Regions from separate parts of the Homo sapiens genome. Here region 2 is linked to region 1. Evidence: fine-mapped expression QTL. Tissue or cell type: visceral fat. Region 1 holds a variant in brackets; the other region holds the start of a gene. All regions are shown on one strand. Distances are from middle to middle.

The links. PIP is the estimated chance that this variant, and not a neighbour inherited with it, causes the effect.
Region 2: it holds the start of WDR36, and the variant in region 1 is fine-mapped to the expression of WDR36 in visceral fat (GTEx, PIP above 0.99).

What each region holds. Positions count from the first base shown.
Region 1 is chr5:111,134,568-111,137,421 of GRCh38, reverse strand. No RefSeq gene overlaps it. Among named protein-coding and RNA genes, the nearest start is that of WDR36, 44 kb to the right of the region's middle. The variant C/G (reference allele first, on the strand shown) is at 1,505.
Region 2 is chr5:111,090,801-111,093,476 of GRCh38, reverse strand. It overlaps WDR36 (WD repeat domain 36), which reads right to left and starts at 1,129. Exons shown (of 23, transcript NM_139281.3): 1 at 859-1,129. The coding sequence starts at 1,020. RefSeq lists an enhancer at 840-1,279.

The DNA of each region.
Region 1 (2,854 bases):
CTCAGCCACGAAGTCTTCAAGGGACTTGGAAAAACCCTTAATGTACTTAAATAGTAGTTTCTGCTGAAAATAACTAAAACTGGTTCTGAGTAATACATTTCATTATGTTAATTAAAAAATTTTTGTTTATGACCTAATTGTTTTATTCTAAACTTTGCCATCTAGTCCTAATTGAACTCAATAGGTGACTGATCCAACTAAATCTGAGGTTGAATGGAGTTTTAAAACCTGAGACCAGCCCTGACCTCACTGGCTCTCTCAGAGGATGAAGAGCAGTACTGATTCATATTCCATGTCTTGGAACATCAGATTTAAGGCATTTTCAGAGATAAGCATTGGGTATTAGTATATGCTAGCACCTCTTGGTAAGGCTATGTATTTCTCTAACCAATCAATTGGTGCAATGATTCTCAACATTTTTTGTCTAAGGAGCCCTTCACTTTCTAAAAAATTATTGAGGATCTCAGTGTGACATTAATTATATCTGTTGATATTTCCTGTACTTGAAATACTGTGAGTAAACACAGTTTTATGAAAATAGTTTTTAATCATATTTTGCTGACCATCTGGAAATATTTGAAGGACCCCTAGGGAACACTGGACAGACAACTCTTAGAAAACCACTAAATTAGGTATTTATGGAACACTTGTGTGCACAAAATTGAGATGGGCTCTATAGCAAATTTGGACATTTAGCTGATGGCAGACAATGGGAATGAGACTTCCACACTGGCACAAAAGGAGGAAACCAACCCATCAAGGGCATTAGAGATGCAGGCAAACAGTGACAGACACTTTCCTGCATGATCTAAGTTTACCCTAACTGTCTCTGGGCAGTGCTATTTATTGAGGAGTTTTGCTGCAACAAAGGCTATGAAAAAAAAAGGCCTTGTGTTTCATAAAGGAATAATATTTTAAGGATTAGTATTTTTTTAATAGATAAAACTGGTTTCAAGTGACACAAAGTATGGTGTATTTGCTGCATGATTGTCATTTCCCAGCAGGATGAGAATGGTAATTTCCATCTTTGAGTTCTGGTAAAGGGTAAAGAGATAAGCTAATGTGAGATTATGTTTTTCTTCAACACTTAGTTCATGTGGAATCAAGTGGATTATTTCTATTTGTCGCTGAGAGTGAAACTCTCCACCCTGATGTTCTTCGTGCTTTCTGGGAAATCTCAGGCAAGTACCACACCATTGAGATGAGGATCTCTTCTGCCAAGAGCCACCCTTTCCACCACTCCCTGGAGAAATCTCTGACTCAGTCAAGCTAGGTGACTCAGAACTCCCTCGGTTCCTCTGCCTTCCAATTCATGCCAGCTGGGCACAGAGAGAAAGAGACAGGGCTCAGTGCTGACCTGGAGACCATCTGCGCCTCATAAAGACCCAATGCCAGGGACTTGCATCGAAATGAATGTGGTTAGGTCAAGTGGTGGCCTGGAATTTTGGGAAAGGTCCAGTGACTTGGGTGGCAAACACAATTGCAGCTTCCAAAGGCCACCTTC[C/G]AGAGGAAATAAGATCTGGTCAGCCACACAAGATATATCTACGAAGTAGCATGAATGGATGGATGGATGAATGGTTAGAGATGTGTAAATACATTCTATTTGAAAAGCTAGACAAAAAAAAAGATTGAAATACAATTAAAAAAAACTAAACTAAATATAGAGTATGAAAATATATAGACATCAACACCTAGAATCAATAGTAGTTGATGTTTTATCTTATTTTGTTTAATTTAAAATTACACAAAACATTGCAGATAAAGTCTCCTTTGTACCCAGTTCCAGGGCCACTGACCTCTACACATTCCCAGAGGTAGCAGCTGGCATGACTTTGGCCATCCCTGACTTTCTATTGCCTTTCTCATGGCCTCATCTCTGAATGCTGTCCTGTCTCTCTCTGTAATACCATGCCCCTCCCACCCCCTTTGTTCAAGATCAATGGCAGTTGTCCTCTTTGTGCAGCCTGCCCTGGCTCCGAGAAGGCAGATGTGTGCTGCCTTTCCTCCTGCAAGGCTCATCTCCTGGACTGGGGGTCAGGCACCCTGTCTCATGTGTGTTGGGATCTCCATCTTGCCATACCCCATACACGATTATTTAGGAGGGAATGGGACAGGTTGAGAGAAGCACACAGTTCCACAGGCACCTTTTTCCTCACGTGTTGTAGCTTACATTTTTGAAGTACCTTCACTTCACCTCCTTGTCACCACAGCAACAGAGATGAACATCTCATCTCTGCCCCCTGCCTCCACCTTTCCACGCAGTGTGCCAAGAGCTAAAACTGCACCCAGGCCCCTGGGGGGTGGCCCTCAGCTCCAGGAGCCACGTCTGACAAACTACAAGGCTAATTCCTAGTCTCTGCTTCCCTATGCCTGGCCATCTATTATCAGCCAGAGAATGGAGAGGTGGAGTCTTCCAAGGGAAAAAAAAAACCAGTTTTTTTTCCTCCTTAATTGTTTTACTTCTTCATATGCACTGCTTTTCTAAGTTACCAAGCCCTTTGTTAAAACAAGAATGGTAGTGAAGCAGCATGCAGGCATTTTTTTTTTCATATGGAGGCTATTTGGGAATTCCTGTACACACACACAAACACGTGCACACACGTGTGCGTGCACACACACACACACACCCACGTATGCCACATTTTGAAATAAAGGGAGAAACTCCTGGCAGTCACTCTTTGCAGAGTGTGAAGGCCTAGAAACATCTTCTTCTTTATCTTGATTCTAAAAGAGAGCAAGTCAAAAGGCTAAGCAAAAGAATATAAAAGAATAATGAGCTAAAATACAAGCTTCATAGGACCGGGATTTTTATATGTTTTGTTTTCTAAAGTATCTCAAGAGCATAGAACAGCAT
Region 2 (2,676 bases), 44 kb after region 1:
TCAACTAGTTCCTACCTCCCAGCTCTTTTTGCTAATAAGCCATTTGATATTCACAATCCTCCAAGAGAGACAACTCTACCTGTTTTCCAGAAAAGAAAGTACTTAATTAACACTGACTATTATCATCCTCCTCATCAAGGTTTCTGTTCTCACAGAGGTTACATTCTTTCGGAGAAGACAAAAGAAACAAGTAAACAAGAGACACTATTACAATGATCGATGAACTGTTATAGGAGAAAAAATCATCACTAACAAGTGATTTATCTGAAATTTACTTTAATAGATTATATAAAGGTGCTACGGTATAATGACACCTATGTTGCAAAGAAACGGCTGCAAGGCTTAGAGTGACAGTGCCAGACACTTTGCGTTAGTTGAAAATAACTGATTGCTATTAGATATTTTCCCTAACGGTAATTAATCTCACCATCTCCGGTTCTCCCAATGTATTCTACCTAGAGTGAATTTCTAACTCAGCTCGTGTCACCAATAACGTAATAGCGTGCATGTTTTTCTCTCTCATTAAGAATGCAAGAGGTAGAGGTTTGTCTTAATTATGTTTCCACCTTCAAGGGAAGGTCAATAAATATTCACTGAACAAATATTACTGCCATACAACTGAGATGTTCTCTAGCAGTTTCCCCTTGGCCAGGCTGCCTCTGAAACACGCCCCAGGAGGACTGCAAGTGCCAAATCAGCACGTGGACGTGACCGGATGGCGAAATATTAATAGGACAGGGAGGGGTTAAAGAAGGGAAGCCCGTGGTAAATGGGAAGGGAGAACCGGACTGCTCCAGGACAGAGTTAGAGGCCAAGGAGGGTGGTTTTCCTGGGAAGCTAACAAAAGAAGTCACTCACGTCATAGGTGTGGAAACTCTTGCCCACGCAGGTTGTTACATAGAACCGGCGCTTGAGCGCGCTGAACCGCACCACGTGTGGAATGTCGTTGCTGAAAAGTCCCAAGGCCCGGAACCCCGCAAAAAGCGCGCTGGCCGTGCGCCTTTCTGAGGCCCGTTCCATTGCCGCCGCGATCCCAGCTCCTCTCAGCTCTGGTCCTGAAGGAAAACACGTACCCAGTCCCTTCAGCGTGTCTAGTGGAACAGTCCTCTGCCAGAGCTGCAGACACAACACCGCTTCCGGCGCCCGCTGCGAATCGCGTTTCCGGAGACTGCCCTCAGTGCAACACATAAAGTTCTCCCTCCAGAGCTCACATGGGAGGCGTGACTTGGGTTCCGAGGGCCAAGGTCTCCAGCACGTTGCCTAGCATTGTTCTCCAGCTCTTTTGCGGTGGAAGGAAGCTCGTTAGGTTCCGACAGAACCGCAAGGGCGGGAAACAAAGAGGGAAGCGCGACGCCCAGGAGAATGGAGGGGAGGTCGACGCCTTGGAGATGGAAACGATTTAAACATGTGATTATTTAAAAATGTACAAAAACATGAGACTGGAAAAATTTAAACACTGGATATCTGATGATATTAAGGAATTATGTTTCATTTTTACATATGATAGTAGCATTATGATTACGTTTTTAAAGATCCTCATCTTTTGGATACATATTGACATATTTACAGATGAAAACTATAATGGGACATTTCAAAACTGACAGAGGGATTCACTCACAGACCCTCTGGGGAGTAGAACTAATTACTTGTGGGGAGGGAACTGCTCACTTGGGCAACTTGGATAAGTGTAGATTCCTCCCAGAAAAGGAAGATAAATATTAAATGTTATTGGGATTCCTGGATTAAGTCAGTATTCCTTGAGGTCGGCTGTCAAAAGCAGACAGTAGAGGTTCTAAAGAGGAGCTTATCATAATGCAAACGGGAGTCCGGGCAGTTCATTAGAGCTGAGTGCCTTAGGATGCTGAAGGAGACTGATTCCAGTGAAGTGGGTGTCAAGACGCCTCACTCCTCAGGAGCCAGCTGCCTTACCAAGATGTAGGTTTGGGGAACAATCTCTGAGCATGTGAACATTAACTAAAACAGTGGTGAGCTTAGAGCCCAGGACCAAAGTTCAACATATGGAATAACCTCTTCTCTTACTGTTTTATTTCCATTTCATTTCGTTTATGAAAACGTTTTGGCAGCCTATTAAGGTTTGGGTCGAGTGACTAACGTAACTATACTAGTACTTGAGAGGGATAAAAAGGGTATATTTACTAATGTAAATGTACTTGAAAGAGATAAAGAGGGTCTGTCTCTACACAGATCAGTGTACTCTCTCGGGTTCCTTCCAGTTCTAAAATGTAATTATTATGAAACAAAAGTCACTTGTTAGCTAATTTGAATACCTGACTCATACATTCTTGAACAAAAAAAATCTTGATTTATTTTATAGTTCTTGGCACAAAGCCTCAAACACTTTGGATGTTAAGATCATTAAGGGGCAGATGCTAACAGAATGAGAGCTTGTTATTTAGTCCTTGACATGTTGTACTTACTTGTATTTTCATTTGTACCCCGGATTTCTCAATAGCAGTGCACATTTTCAGCCATGTTTTTGGTATGACTTAAAAGTGAACAAGTTGCTAATTATTTGTAAATGTTCTTTAAATTAAAAAAGAGGGGAGAGGGGAGGAGCCAAGATGGCCGAATAGGAACAGCTCCGGTCTACAGCTCCCAGCGTGAGCGACGCAGAAGACGGGTGATTTCTGCATTTCCATCTGAGGTACCGGGTTC